2 separate regions of the Homo sapiens genome follow, and region 1 is linked to region 2. The links come from fine-mapping of genetic effects on gene expression. Tissue or cell type: whole blood. Region 2 holds a variant in brackets; the other region holds the start of a gene. All regions are shown on one strand. Distances are from middle to middle.

Region 1 (8,092 bases), 49 kb before region 2:
CACGTGCACCAAGAACACTGCCTGGCACATAATGAGTGCTCCTAGAGTTTGGAGAGAGAAAAGACAAGACAGGTGCTGATTCTGGTTCTGCCTCTCGTTGACACTGGCAACTGGCACTGCCTCTCATTGGCAACTCTGGGGATAATTTTCCCTTGTGGAACCTCATTCTCTTCATCTACAAAGTGGGGATGGCAGTACTATATCACAGGGCTGTTGCAAGGATAAAAAAGTAAGAAGTCGGCTGGGGGTGGTGGCTCACACCTGTAATCCCAGCACTTTGGGAGACTGAGGCGGGTGGATCCCCTGAGGTCAGGAGTTTGAGACCAGCCTGGCCAACTTGGTGAAACCTCGTTTCTATTAGAAATACAAAAATTAGCCAGGCGTGGTAGTGCACGCCTGTAATTCCAGCTACTCGGGAGGCTGAGGCAGGAGAATCAGTTAGAACCTGGGAGGTGGAGGTTGCCGTGAGCCAAGATCGCGCCACTGCGCTCCAGCCTGGGTGACAGAGGGAGACTCTGTCTCCAAAAAAAAGTAAAAGGTGTGATATTGCACTGTTAGCATGTTAGTTAGATTTCCATCTAGCTCCTTGAAGGAAAAGATTAGTCTAGTCTGACCCTCTGTGCTCTGGGCTCTTAGAGGGCAGACGCCCTCCCTGATGTATGGGAGGAGCCTAGCACAACACCTCAGGAGAAGTTCTTTTGACTTTAACTGCTAGCAGCTCCATCTGCTAGCACTACAGAACACACTCCCTCGTGCTTACTTGCCCCATCCCTTTACTTGCTCATTCAATGCTACCTAATAATCCCCTCTATTCCATCTTTTGATTTATCTACTCATTAAATGGTTTCCACCAGAAATACCTAGGGAAGGGATACTTAACTTCATCAGGTACTGAGATTCTATTTTGTGAATGTCTTCTGTGGATCTTTGACTGTTTCCAGCAATTGATCCAGCCTCTCTTGGCCTTTTCTGCATTTTATTATTTATTTATTTATTGAGATGGGGTCTTGCTCTGTCGCCTAGGCTGGAGGGCACTGGTGTGATCTCAGCTCACTGCAACCTCCACCTCCTGGGTTCAAGAGATTTTTCTGCCTCAGCCTCCCCAGTAGCTGGGATTACAGTTGCCTGCCACCACGCCTGACTAATTTTTTTGTATTTTTTTGTAGAGACGGGGTTTCACCATGTTGGTCAGAATGGTCTCGAACTCCTGACCTCAGGTAATCCACCCGCCTCAGCCTCCTAAAGTGTTGGGATTATAGGCATGAGCCACCACACCTGGCCCTTGTCTGCATTTTAGATTCACCTGTGTATCTGCATTTCCAAATGTGCTTTGCAAAATCCTGAATGCAAGGGTGGGTGTTTGTTGAAGAATGGGACACCTCATGTTGCCCCTGTGGGTTTTCTCAGGAAGGAAAGATTGCTTGGCAGTGCGTGGAATGCATGGCCTTTTGCAAGCTCCTTGATAACCATCGCTCTAACTTTGCTTGTTTGGGGTGTGGAGGCAAGATATTTTCATTGAGAATTCTGAGTCTTTATCCTTTTCTCTCCACTTCAAGCTGAAACTTTTTTTTTTTTTTTTTTGAGACATGGTCTCGCTCTGTCACCCAGGCTGGAGTGCAGGCGATCTTGGCTCACTGCATCCTTGACCCCCCGGCCTCCCCTGCACAGTAGCTGGGACCAAAGGCATGCAAGACCACACCTGGATAATTTTTGTATTTTTTTTAAAGACGAGGTTTCTCCATGTTGCACAAGCTGGTCTTGAACTCCTGAGCTCAAGTGATCTGCCCACCTCGGCCTCCCAAAGTGTTGGGATTACAGGCGTGAGCCACTGTGCGCAGTCAAGCTGAAACTCTTAAGCAAATTTTAAATCTTACTTTAAGGAACAATTTCCTCACCTGTAAAATGGGGACACGAGGATATGATGGAAGTGAAGTCACTTTGTAACTGGTAAAGCTCTGTACAGATATTAGTTAAGATGGTTAATTTCATTAACCTGTGAAGATTCTTAACTAAACCTTGCGCAAGTTGCATTGGCTGCCCTGTCTAGGCACTAATATCTTTAGACGGACTAAGGAGGAAACACACTTTTTTTTTTTTTGAGACAGAGTCTGGCTCTGTCACCCAGGCTGGAGTACAGTGGCATGATCTTGGCTCACTGCAACCTCTGCCTCCTGGGTTCAAGCAATTCTCCTGCCTCAGCCTCCTGAGCAGCTGGGACTACAGACTATGGCCAGCACACCCAGCTAATTATTTGTATTTTTAGTAGAGATGGGGTTTCACCATGTTGGTCAGGCTGGTCTCAAACTCCTGACCTCAAGTGATCCACCCGCCTCAGCCTCCCAAACTGCTGGGATTATAGGCGTGAGCCACCGCACCCGGCCTACACGCTTCTTTTCACAAGAATGACACCCGCAACTATACTTCCCACGTAAATGGAGAGCAGTCTGGCAGATTCATCTAGACCTAGGGTTGGGTGATTATTAGGGAAAGAAAAGGTCCAACCAAGCCAGTGGGCTGAAGAGAGGACATGACCTGCTCAGTCCGAAGCAGATGTGTGACTAAAGTCTAGTCTCCTGGCTTCTCTGCAAAATACCTCATTATCGGCATTATTAACCCTAACAACTGCCATTTATTGAAATCCCACTATGTGCACGAATGGGGACCAATTTACTTCTAGATATTACAACAATCTTGTATTACTGTGCCCACTTCCTGGATGATGGGTCTGAGGTTCACAGAGATCATTTGCCCAAGTTCCTACTGAAAGTGCTAAGGTATTTCCTGAGACTGGCTCAGGGTGTGTTGCCAGACAACAATGCACACATTTTTAACACAATACTAAACTTAGTATATTATACTTATGTTAAAAATTTCGGAGCCGGGCGTGGTGGCTCACGCCTGTAATCCCAGCACTTCGGGAGGCTGAGGCGGGCAGATCACTTGAGGTCAGGAGTTCGAGACCAGCCTGGCCAACATGGTGAAACCCCGTCTCTACTAAAAATACAAAAAATTAGCTGGGCGTAGTGGCGGGCGCCTGCAATCTCAGCTACGCGGGAGGCTGACGCAGGAGAATCGCTTGAATCCGGGAGGCGGAGGTTGCAGTGAGCGAGATCGTGCCACTGCACTCCAGCATGGTCGACAGAGCGAGACTTGTCTCAAAAAAAAAAAAAAAAAGGACATGTGGTAATTCCCCTAGGGAATTTGGCCTTAGTTGTGAAAAATAAAAAAGCTATAATCAATTTCTGTTCTATCGGAAAAAAATGTATTGGCTGTTTAGCTGAAATTCAAATGTAACTTAACATCCCGTATTTTTTATATGCTACATCTGGCAACCCTGGCTTGAGGCTACCTGGCAAAAATCAAAACAGGTTCCTCCTTGTTATGCCCTATGCCTCTGTTGCCTTTATTTTTATCTTTACGAGCAATCATTAACAGTAACTTCAGACTCCAGGCTCTGGTCGCTTTAGGAGGCGGAAGGCGGACTAGGGTAGGACTCCTGGCCCTCATCAACAGGACTGCCAAGAAGCCGGGCACCTTCTGCCCCGCACAAACATGGCCGCGCCTCGCCGCCGAGGATTGGCTCCCGCCGAAAGCTCGTCCTCCTGGCTAAGGGAGCCCCTTCCATTGGGCAGTTAAAAAAAATGGCGGACCCCGCCTCCCGCCGTCCTCGGGCGCGGGGGCGGAGCCTAGAGGAGGCCTGGGACAGGGCCACCAGTGATTGGCGGAGAGCGGTGGTCAGGCCATCACGTGGCCCGAGGCCCGTTTGTTTGCGGAAGTAGGAGGAAGTAGAAGTGCTGAGTAAGCCGAGGTGAGTGACCTCGCGGGTGGGCGGGGCCTGGGGGTCCGTTCCCCAACTTCCTCGGCGCTCCGGACTCCCAAGTCTCCGCCGGACCCTCCTTTGGATATTCCTCGTGTCTCCGATTCTGAGGCATGTCCTCCATTAACCCTTATGTGACTCCCTGAGTGCCCCCACCTTCCATCTTTTCATCCCCCTGCGTCCCCAATTCCCATCCCGAGACCGCCCGTGTCTCATCTCGAACTTGTGGACCCCAGGGACCCCAGCTTCGACCCTGAGTTTCTCCCCTGAACCCCAGTCTCCTCCGTGTGTCTCCCTCAGTATCCCTAACTTCCCGAGTCAATCCATCTCTTCTCTTTCCCCGACCCTCAGTGCCTCTTTAGGCCCCATTGGCCGTCCTAATTTTCCTTCCTGTGCTCCTCTAAGTGCTCACTTGATTCCCCACTTCACGTCCGTCTCCACCTTTCGTGGTGCCTCTACTCATTTCTCACTCCCTGCTTCTCCTGCCTTTCCTCCCTGCTTTTTTTCCTTGCCTTTCCTCTCTCGCGTGCCTCCAGACCTGCCCCCGACATGCTCCCTCCTTCCCCTCAGCCTGGCCACCCCAGAGTCTCCCACCCCTAATCCTGTGTCCACCTCCTGCTCCCACAGATGACTTGGAAGCTGGTGACAGGGAGCATGTGACCAGGGTGATCATGGGACTGGGTCGGGGCAAGCCTGTGGGTGTGGGACAGGGAGGGCACAGGGCAAGGGGACCTGTGGCCGTATTTTTAATGGGCTACCCACATGACCCCAACGAATACCTCCCCCTAGCTTCTGGGTCTTTCCCTCACCTGCCTCTTACCCGCCCAACAGGATGTCAGGCAGGTTCGGTTTGGCAACGTTGAGGCTGCACCCTTGGGCTGAATGCATTGTTTTTGAATGCATTGTTTTTGTTAGAGTTTCTGCCTGGAGTTTGGAACCTGTTTTCTGTCCAAGTCTCAGTTTCCTCATCTGTGACAGGGGAACTGTACCTCCTGCCCTCGTAAGTCTGCCATGAGGTTCAAAATTTGAATGAGAAAATGTAGAAGGTAAAGCTTTATAACCAGTATGGCCCTGTACAAATACATGATTTTACTGTTGGGTCATAGGCAGAATTGAAAGGAGTGGAAAGGGAAAGGGCTAGAATGAGAAGACAAGGAGAGAAGGATGAGCAGGAGGTCCCTTGTCTTTCAGTGTATCATTTGGCAGTGTTTGTTCATCACCTCTTGTGAGTCAGGCTCTTCTGTATATGTTCTCTTCACCATTCATTCAGTCATCGTTTATCTAACAAATATTTACGGACTGTCTGATGTTCTAGGCTACCCTTGGTGTGGCCAATGATATTCTCACTTCACATGAGAAAAAGAGGGCGCATGAGTTGCTTGAGGTCACACCGATGAGGTTGAAGCTGGAATCTGACACCAGAGCCTGTGTGATTGTCCTGATGTGTAAGGTTTGCTACTGTTTAGGACACTTCTTGTTCCTTCCGTGGATTACTTTCTTGTTACATGAGAGACTCCCCAAAAGGGAGTTTCCCTCTTACTCAGCAGAATGACATCACTAAGAGATACAGAAAGGAGAAATTTAAATACTCTGTGTGTGTGTGTGTGTGTGTGTGTGTGTGTGTGTGTGTGTGTCTGCAGACATCTATTGGGTGTGTGTGCTGGGGGAAGTAGGTAGGCAAGGAGTAAGGGGCCGTAGTGAAGAGTGTGTTACAAACTTCACTTTGTAGAGGGTGGCTCCCTGGGAGAATATGTTCTGTGTCTTTCACAGTGGATTTTGATAGGGTCATGTCTTAAATGCCTCTTCTCGTTTTCGGATGGTGATCTCATCCAGTCTTATTTCTTTAAGTGCCGTCTCTATTCTGTCAGCCCACAAATTTATATCCCCAGTCCAGTCCAGACCTTTCCCTGGAATGACATACTCAAATCTAGTTGCTTACTCAGCACCTCAAACTTAGGCTTTTCAAACTTGAAGTATTTATTTATTGATTTATTTATTTTTTGAGACAGAGTCTCACTCTGTCACCCAGGCTGGAATGCAATGGCACGATCTCGGCTCACTGCAACCTCCACCTCCTGATTCTCCTGCCTCAGCCTCCCAAGTAGCTGGGATTACAAGCATGCGCCATCATGCCCAACTAATTTTTGTATTTTTGTAGAGGCGGGGTTTCACCGTGTTGGCCAGGCTGGTCTCGAACTCCTGATCTCAAGTGATCCACCTGCCTTGGCCTCCCAAAGTGGTGGGATTACAGGTGTGAGCCACCGCGCCAGGCCTCAAACTTAAGAGTTTAGAATTGAGCTCCTGTTAGTTCTGCCCTCCATCCCTGACCCCACTCTTCACCAAAACATGTCCCTCCCACTCTCTTTCTCATCTTAGGACATAGGAGTATTGTTCATTCAGTTGCTCAGGTCAAAGCTGTGAGATTATCTATGATGCCTCTCTGTTTCTTACCCCACACCCAGCCAGAGTGATCTTGTTAAAATGTTGTTTCTTTGCAGTGGCCTCTCCTCTCATGGCACATGCCTGGCCCCCTGTTGCCTCTCTGATGTCACTGGCTTCCTTGCTTTTCCTGGAACTCGCTAAACATGTTCCAGCCCCATGGCCTTTGCACACGCTCTCTTTGCCTAGCTATTCATATGACTTTCATCTCTCTCCATCAGGTATTTATTTAAGATCAATTTCTTGGTGAAGACTTCTCTCCTCACCCAATCTAAAATTTCACTCTCCACCTCAGCACTTCCTATCCCCATTCTCTGGTTTTTCTCCTCAGTAGTTAATTGTCATCTAAAACCTTTGTAAATATTTACCTGTTTATCTTCTTTATTATTAGTAGCTCTGTCTAAAATATAAGTTCCAGGATGTCAGGGATTTTGTGGGGTTTTTTTTGGTTGGTTGGTTGTTTTGGTTTTGAGACAGGGTCTCACTCTGTTGCCCAGGCTGGAGCGCAGTGGTGCGATCTCAGCTCACTGCAGCCTCCGCCTCCTGGGTTTGAGTGATTCTCCCACCTCAGTCTCCCAGGAAGCTGGAATTACAGGTGCACGCCACCACACCCAGCTAATTTTTGTATTTTTTGGTAGAGATGGGGTTTCACTATGTTGGCCAGGCCGGTCTTGAACTCTTGACCTCAAGTGATCCACCCGCCTCGGCCTCCCAAAGTTCTGGGATTACTGGTGTGAGCCACCGCGCCCGGCCTTGTTTTGTTTTAAGACAGGGTCTCACTGTCGCTCAGGCTGGATTGCAGTGGCACAATCACAGCTCACTGCAGCCTCGACCTGCTAGACTTAAGCAATCCCCCCACCTCAGCCACCTTAGTAGCTGGGACTTACAGGCATGAGAGATACCATGCCTGGGTAATTGTTAAGTTTTTGTAGAGGTGAGGTCTCACTATATTACCCAGGCTGGTCTCAAAGTCCTGAGCTTAAGTGATCCTCCTTCCTTGGCCTCCTAAAGTGCTGGGATTACAGGAGTGAACTGCCGTGCCTGACCAGTCTGTTTTGTTTACGATTGTATCCTCAGCGGTTAGAACAATGCCTGCCACAATCCATCTCAGTAAATATTTGTGGAGTGAGTCATAACATGGGCCACACTGTACCGTGCCACCAGCCCAAAGATCTCTTAAAGTCACCCCTGTCTCATGTGCTTGGGAGCTCCAGTGACAGTTTCGGGGCAGTTTGCTTCCAGCTGTGGTCCAGCCAAGCGGAGTGAATGAAAGAGATGCTTTTTCCTTTTGTGAAAGGACGTTTTGCTCTGGCTCACGTGAGCAGCAGTGCATTTTGAGACGAGGGCCTTGGCTTTTGGAATCTAAGAGCCTGTTGAGCAAGCCTCGCTCAGCCACCTTCTTTCAGCTTTCTCCTGAAGGCAGTTTGAGGATTAAGAGCCTGATGCTCTGGATTCCACCTAATTGGGTTCAGATCCTGGCAAACTGTGTAACCTGTGCCCCAGTTTCCTGTGTAATGTGGAGAGACCTGGACCTTTTCTTACAGGTGTTTGGAGGGTTAAATGTGGCAATTCGGCCGGGCGCAGTGGCTCATGCCTGTAACCCCAGCACTTTGGGAGGTGGAGGTGGGCGGATCACCGGAGGTCAGGAGTTCAAGACCAGCCTGGTTAACATGGTGAAACCCCGTTTCTACTAAAAATACAAAAAATTAGCCGAGTGTGGTGGTGCGCGCCTGTAATCCCAGCTAGTCTGGAGACTGAGGCAGGAGAATCGCTTGAACCCGGGAGGCAGAGGTTGCAGTGAGCCAAGATCACGCCATTGCACTCCAGCTTGGGCAA
Region 2 (8,100 bases):
CAAACAAACAAACAAAAAACAGATGAGGAAACCAGGGCTTAGAGAGATTAAGTAATTTGCTCAAAGTCAGGCAGTCAGTAAGTGCCAGACCTGGGAATTAAACCCATGTGGGCTGTCCTAGTAATTGCACTAAAAAAAAAAAAAAAAAAAAGCTTTATTGAGATATAGTTCCTATTCCATACAATCCACCTATTGAAAGTATACAATGATTCTGATATATTATGTTTATTTTTTCCAACTGTGATAGATTATATATAACATAAAATTTGCCATTTTAACCACTTTTGTTTTTTGTTTTTGAGACAGAGTTTCGCTCTCGTTGCTCAGGCTGGAGTGCAATGGTGTGATCTCGGCTTACCGTTACCTCCACCTCCCGGGTTCAAGTGATTCTCCTGCCTCAGCCTCCCGAGTAGTAGCTGGGATTACAGGCATGCACCACCATGCCCAGTTAATTTTGTATTTTTTAGTAGAGACAGGGTTTCTCCATGTTGGTCAGGCTGGTCTCGAACTCCCGACCTCAGGTGATCCACCCACCTTGGCCTCCCAAAGTGCTGGGATTACAGGCGTGAGCCACCACACCCGGCCCATTTTAACCACTTTTAAGTGTACAATTCGGTGGTTTTAATCACATTTACAATGTTGTCCAACCATTACCCCTTTCTAAAACTTTTCTTATCACCTCAAACAGAAACTGTAACCATTAATAACTCCCGATTCTCCCCTCCCCACAGCCCCCGATAAGTCCCATATCCTCTCTGTCTCTCAGAACTTGCCTGTTCTAGAACCTCGTATCAGTGAAATCATACAGCGTTTGTCCTTTTGTGCCTGGCTTATTTCACTTAGCATGATGTCTTCAAGGCTCATCCATGTTGCAGCACGTATCAGAATTTCCTTTCTTTTTAAGGCAGAATACTATTTTGTTTATCCATTCAGTCCTTCACTGATAGACGCCTGGGTTGTTTCCACCTTTTGTCTGTTGTGAAGAATGCTGCTGTGTACATGGGTCTGCAAATGTCCATTCAAGTCCCTGCATTCCGTCCTTTGATACTTCCGACCTCAGGTGATCCGCCTGCCTCAGCCTCCCAAAGTGTTGGGATTACAGGCGTGAGACACCGCGCCCAGCCAGAAAAATTTTAAAGTCTTCTCCTTGCACAGCTGAACTTGTGAACCGAGATTCCTACCCATGATACAATGATGGAGCACTTTCTTTGGGCCAGGCGGGGCCTAATGAGGCTTGTGAACCCGGGGCCTCTGCTCTGAGGCTGGAGATGCTAAGATCTCTGGTGGACACTGCTTGCCTCAGGCACCGAGTAGAAAGCAATTGTGCTCTTTCCCACTCTGTCATACTGCTTCCTATAGCATGCAGGTCACTGTGTGACTCACTGACAGTGTGGTAAGGAGGTGGAGGGTGGCTGTGTGCCAGGCACAGAACTGGGCTCTGAAATGCCTGGTCTTCCTTACACCCCAGCCACTCCTCTCAGCACTCTCTCCATGTTGCTCAGCTTCTGGAGGCCACCAGTGAGGAAGCTGGGGCTTGACTTCAAGCCCATCTGACTCTAAAGCCAGTACCAGGGAGGGTGATCATTGCTGGTGGCAGCATCAGGAAGGCTTCCTGGAGGAGGGGGTTAGTTGTGCCTTGAGGGGCTCAGTACAGCCTTAACCATGGTGAGTGTGCTGGTTGGGTTTGCTGAACTTTGTTTGCAGTGATGCTCTCTGTAAGCAGTAGATGAAGCTCCAAGTCCTGGCTTCATCCCACGCCACGCAGACCCTAGCTTCTGCTCACCAACCGGGGCCCCTCTCTCACCAGGTGTGCGGAGATGATCATCAGCATGGACAGCAGCCAGATCCACAGCAAAGACCCCCGTTACGGAGCCAGCCCCCTCCACTGGGCCAAGAACGCAGAGGTGAGTGGATCCTGAGGTGGGTGGGTGGGGCAGGGGGCCGGGCCCCGCAGGTCCTCAGGGCCCTCAGGAAGCAGGTTCCCGAGAGGACCCTGAGGCTAGCACTTGGGGGCTGACCTTGCAGTGGGTGTGCAGGCAGAGAAGTCCATGAAGAGCTGGGATCCTGGCAGGGCTCTGCTGCTCTCTGGCTGGGCGGGGGGATCCGCCCTGTGCCTCAGTTTCCTCATCCATGAATTCTGCTTTGGCGATGTGATGAAGTCAGCAAGGCAGTGTGTGACAAAACTCGGCACAAATTGTAAAGTGCTTCCCAAATAGAAGGTGGCGTGATGATGATTGTATTATTAGTCAGGATTCTCTAGAGGGCCAGAACTAACAGGAGATATATATATAGAGAGAGAGGGGGGTTTATTTTTTTATTTTATTTTTTTTGAGACGGAGTCTCGCTCTGTCGCCCAGGCTGGAGTGCAGTGGCACAATCTTGGCTCACTGCAAGCTCTGCCTCCCAGGTTCATGCCATTCTCCTGCCTCAGCCTCCTGAGTAGCTGGGACTACAGGCGCCCGCCACCACACCCGGCTAATTTTTTTGTATTTTTAGTAGAGACGAGGTTTCACCGTGTTAGCCAGGATGGTCTCGATCTCCTGACCTCGTGATCTGCCTGCCTTGGCCTCCCAAAGTGCTGGGATTATAGGCGTGAGCCACCGTGCCTGGCCTAAAGGGGGATTTATTAAGGAGCATTAACTCACACGATCACAAGGTCCCACAATAGGCCATCGCAAGCTGAGGAGCAAGGAAGCCAGTCCAAGTCCCAGAGCTGAAGGACTTGGAGTCTGATGTTTGAGGGCAGGAAGCATCCAGCACGGGAGAAAGATGTAGGCTGGGAGGCTAAGCCAGTCTAGCCTTTTCACATTTTTTTCTGCCTGCTTTATATTCTGGCCGTGCTGGCAGCTGATTAGATGGTGCCCACCCAGATTAAGGGTAGGTCTGCCTTCCCCTACTGACTCAAATGTTAATCTCCGTTAGCAGCACCCTCTCAGACACACCCAGGGTCAATACTTTACATCCTTCAATCCAATCAAGTTGACACTCATTATTAACCATCAAGATGATGATGATGATGATGGATGATGATGGTGGTGGTGGTGGTGCTGGGCCTAGCTGCACACACAGGGAGCCTGGCTGGGCATCTCCTCTGAGTTCTTCCCCTAAGCTAAGCTCTGTCCTCCTGGGAGGATGGAGGCCTCTGGTCTCATCACCAGGAAGCACAGCTTGACAGAGAATGGGATGCCCCAGAGTTCATGGCCTACTTCTCAATGTGATGGGCCAGGAGGGAGGGCACTGCCAGCCTCAGGGTACCTCTGCATTCCAGGAGCCGGACACCGAGTCAGGCCCTTCCGTGTAGGTTTGGTCACTCATTGTCATCACATGCTGTGAGGTGGGGACTTGCATTCCCATCTTCACAGAAGCCCTGAAGTGCACATGGCTACAGTGACCCATCC[A/C]AGCGCAGGCAGCTGGGATGAGTGAAGCTGGGCTTTGGGCTCAGGTCTGTGACTCCAAAGCCAGGCTCCCCTCCCTGTTCCCAAGGCTCTGCCAGGGATGTGCATTGCCAAGGCCCAGTGAGAGGTGATACCTTTGCAGGGTTCCAGGGAGGGATGCAGGGAGCGGGGTGCTTCAGGACAGGCCCCAGAGGAGCCTTTGCAAGGAGAGTGGGTTCTGTTGGCACTAGGAAAGGACCAGAAGCCTCTTAAAACAGTCAGCACATCTTTGGCTTTTTGTCCCTAGTCTTGGGATGCTGATGGGATGGGAGGCAGTCTAGGCCCCCCTAGAACTGGGGCCTGCCCCTGGAATCCTCTTGCTAGCGCTTTCCAACATCCCAGTACCTGTAGGCCTCTCAGAGCAGAAGTGGCAGTGCCCACGTGTCCCGGGGTGCGGCAGCTCCCCGAGTGCCTGTGCTAACTCAGCCTGACCGTCTCCCGCAGATGGCCCGCATGCTGCTGAAACGGGGCTGCAACGTGAACAGCACCAGCTCCGCGGGGAACACGGCCCTGCACGTGGCGGTGATGCGCAACCGCTTCGACTGTGCCATAGTGCTGCTGACCCACGGGGCCAACGCGGATGCCCGCGGAGAGCACGGCAACACCCCGCTGCACCTGGCCATGTCGGTGAGCCCAGGACCGCGTGTCCTGCCCTGTGGGGCCCCGGTGGGAATGCAGGAGGGCTGTCCGGACTGGAGCCCTCCTCCCCACTGTCTCCCTCCTATCGTCAGCTGCTCCAAATCATCTTCCCACCCAAAGCTCAGTTCAGACCCTGACTCCTCCCTCAGGAAGCCTTCCAAGTCCCCCTCTCAGCCCAAAATAACACCACCTCCTGTGTGCTGTGGTACCTTTTCCACCTGTGCCCCCATTTGGCACTTGCATGGCACGAGAGGGAAAAATGACAGCTCTGGCCATAGACTGGCCCTGAGCAAGCCATGTCACCTGTCAGCCTCGATTTCCTCATCTGGAAAATGGTGGTGTCAATACTTATCTGGAAGAGTTGTGGAAAAGTTATGGTGGACACTTGGTCACCCTCTACAGAATGTCTAAGTGACACACGCAGTACCTGGCCCGAGTGAGCATCCTGCTTCCCTTCACTGGTCCGCGTGTTGCTCTCATCTTCCCTGGGAGGCTGTAAGATCCTGGCAGGCAAAGCCTGAGTGTGCAGCCCAGCAGCCTGTGGCAGGTGCCAGGCATATTCGTTGGTTTATTATAGAACACAGTTCCTGCCCTCAAAGCCCTTACTGTCTGGTTACACATCTAGAGTATGAACATATTAAACCTAGCAGAGGAGGACGTTACTGTGTTACAGACATATGTGTGTGCATGTATTCTTTTTTTTCGAGATGGAGTCTCGCACTGTCGCCCAGGCTGGAGTGCAGTGGCGCGATCTCGGCTCACCACAACCTCCGCCTCCCAGGTTCAAGCGATTCTCCTGCCTCAGCCTCCCAAGTAGCTGGGACTGCAGGCACGTGCCACCATGCCCAGCTAATTTTTGTATTTTTAGTAGAGACGGGGTTTCACCACGTTGGCCAGGCTGGTCTCGAACTCCTGTGTTGGCCAGGCTGGTCTCAAACTCCTGACCTCATGATCCACCCGCCTTGGCACCCCAAAGTGCTGGGATTACAGGCGTGAGCCACCGCGCCCCACCGTGTGCACGTTTTCTATAGCAATACCGTATGTACAGAAGTCTGTTTACTGAGTCTCAGTGACAGAACATGAGAGACCCCCGGGACTCTAAAAGCTGATTCAGGACACATTCAGAGACATCCTGTTTTATACCAAAGGTCAAAACTTGGAAGAGATGTTGTTGCCCAAAAGGCTGAAACTATAAATAGTTTCATTTTTGAAACTGTGGACATTTTTAGCACTGGGTGGGCCCTTGGAATGATCTAACTCAGCAGTTCTCAAGTTTTTTGGCCTATTTGATCCCTTTATACTCTGAAAAATTATTGAGGATCACAAAGATTTTTTAATCATCTGGATTTTCTTTATCTATATTTACCATTTTAGAAATTTAAAGTGTGAAAATTTCAAAATATTAATTCATTTAAAAATAACAATAATAAATATATATGCCTACTATGTACCCACAAAAATTAAAATTAAAAATTTTTTAAAAAACTTAAAAAATAACTGGCCAGCTGCAGTGGCTCGTGTACACCAGCACTTTGGGAGGCCAAGATGGTCAGATCACCTGAGGCCAGGAGTTCGAGACCAGCCTGGCCAACATGGCGAAAGCCCATCTCTACTAAAAATGCAAAATTAGCTGGGTGTGAGACCTCTGAAAGGGTATCACGTGTTCACAGGGGTCCCCAGGTCTTACTTTAAGAACTGCTGATAGACTTTGGTCATCTTCATCCCATCTTCACAGTTTTTGGCATATTCATCAACCACCTTTACAATTATGTACTTAATCACCTCTTCAAATTGGCTTACTTTTATTTATTTATTTTGAGACAGAGTTTCGCTTTTGTTGCCCAGGCTGGAGTGCAATGGCACGATCTTGGCTCACCGCAACCTCTGCCTCCTGGGTTCAAGCGATTCTCCTGCCTCAGCTTCCCGAGTAGCTGGGATTACGTTCATGCGCCACCACACCTGGCTAATTTTGTATTTTTAGTAGAGACGGGGTTTCTCCATGTTGGTCAGGCTGGTCTTGAACTCCTGACCTCAGGTGTTCCACCTGCCTCAGCCTCCCAAACTGCTGGGATTACAAGCGTGAGCCACCGTGCCCGGCCTGGCTTACTTTTAAACTGACTTAAATTTATTTTGAGAGAAATGTTGCATCACTACCATAAATGGCCATCCATCCATCCAGTGCCAACCATAAAAGGTAACCAATGCAGGGCGCGGTGGCTCACGCCTGTAATCCCAGCATTTTGGGAGGCCGAGGTGGGCGAATCACGAGGTCAGGAGTTCAAGACCAGCCTGGCCAACATGGTGAAACCCTGTCTCTACTAAAAATACAAAAAATTAGCTGGGCGTAGTGGTGGGCACCTGTAATACCAGCTACTCTGGAGGCTGAGGCAGGAGAATTGCTTGAACTCGGTAGGTAGAGGTTGCAGTGAGCTGAGATCACGCCACTGCACTCCAGCCTGGGTGACAGAGTGAGACTCCGTCTCAAAAAAAACAAAACAAAACAGTAACAACAACAAAAAATCACAGTTAATGCTGAAAACACACACATATCTGTAGCCATAGAAGTCCTAATAGAATGTGAAGAACTGTTTGGAAAACCCCATTCTAGACCCACAGCTTCATTCTCTAGGCAGGGAAATCGGGTCCCAAGAAGAGGAAGGTGACAAGGCCAGAGCCCACAGTTCCAGGTGGCCAGTGTGTCCTCTGAAACCATGCCATGCTCTGCGCCCCTGCCCGGCCTCCAGGTGTGGAAATGTGTGACGTTCTTCGTGGGGACACTCCCCCGAAGGCTGCCATTAGGGGCACGTGTGTTCGGTTACCCCTCAGGGATGACACCCTGGACTGGGTGGGCAAGATGGCCTTCCCTGCCCTCACCCACCCTCTCCTTGCTACTCCTGAAAGCCATCAGCAGCTGACCTACTGTGTCCCCATGGCTCCTGGGTCGGGGTCACAGATGCACTGCATCTTTGGAGGCGGAGCTGGCAGAGCAGGGGCGAGTCACTTCTAGTTTCTGCCTGGGTTCTTACACCCTCCCCTGTGGGTGCTTTTAAGCCTGTTTGTCAGGTCCCCAGCCATCAAATGGCAGACTTTGGACTACCAGATTGACTTGGGTGGGGGTGAGGAGGGTTCCAGTGTCTCCCCGTGCTGAGGAGAGGCCCGCTGGGTGAGTTGACAGGTTGGGGCTGGCAGCCAGGGGCCCCTTTGTTCTTCACTTCCCCGGCAGTTGCACGTCTTATCCTCTCTCCATCTCCAACAGAAAGACAACGTGGAGATGATCAAGGCCCTCATCGTGTTCGGAGCAGAAGTGGACACCCCGAATGACTTTGGGGAGACTCCTACATTCCTAGCCTCCAAAATCGGCAGACGTATGTGCTCTGCACTCTGGGGCTGGAGTGGGGTGAGGGTTGGGTGGATACAGGGACCGAGGAGGAGGGAAGTCCCAGGCATCAGGTGCCAGCATCCTGTGCTGACCCGCCCTGCTCAGAGCTGCCAGGAGCACCTCGTACTCAGAGAGGGGGCTTCCTTACCCAAGCACAAGGGCCCTGAGCAGTAGATGCAGGCCCACCACGGGGCTTGCTATACCAGCATCCTCTCCCGTGCAGCGCCCCCCACCTCAGGGAGCTAAGATTCCCAGCAGGGGTGGGGACAGGAGAGCCAGCAGCAGCCTTCTTTCCCCACCGTTGGGGAATTCACTGATGGAACCACTGGCTAGAATGACCAAGGGTGCATGCACTACACTGCACGAGCTCTGGGCATGCCTGTGTGGGCAGAGTGCATGGCCATGTGCTGCACGCTCGCACAGTGAGCCTTAGCTTCAGAGCTGGACAGAGCAGATCCTCCTCACCAGAGGCCTGGAGCCCGCTCTGGAGGGTTTCAGCAGCTGTGGGGGTCACTGTGGGCAGGTACCTGATGGCAGCAGTGTGTGTGTGCCAGTGCACACGTGTGTGTCTGCATGCACCGCATCTATGACCTCCTTTTCAGCAATCCCATCCATCAAATGGAGTAGGTGCCCCCTGGCTGGCTCATT

Evidence for each region. PIP is the estimated chance that this variant, and not a neighbour inherited with it, causes the effect.
Region 1: PLA2G6 starts here. The variant in region 2 is fine-mapped to the expression of PLA2G6 in whole blood (INTERVAL, PIP 0.91).

The regions. Positions count from the first base shown.
Region 1 is chr22:38,177,500-38,185,591 of GRCh38, reverse strand. PLA2G6 (phospholipase A2 group VI) reads left to right here and starts at 3,762. Exons shown (of 17, transcript NM_003560.4): 1 at 3,762-3,928. RefSeq lists a cis regulatory region at 682 and enhancers at 610-754, 3,490-3,599, 3,516-3,810, 3,760-4,209, 4,840-4,909 and 1 more.
Region 2 is chr22:38,128,792-38,136,891 of GRCh38, reverse strand. PLA2G6 (phospholipase A2 group VI) reads left to right here. Exons shown (of 17, transcript NM_003560.4): 6 at 1,808-1,904; 7 at 3,879-4,061; 8 at 7,330-7,438. Among named protein-coding and RNA genes, the nearest start is that of BAIAP2L2, 22 kb to the right of the region's middle. The variant A/C (reference allele first, on the strand shown) is at 3,399.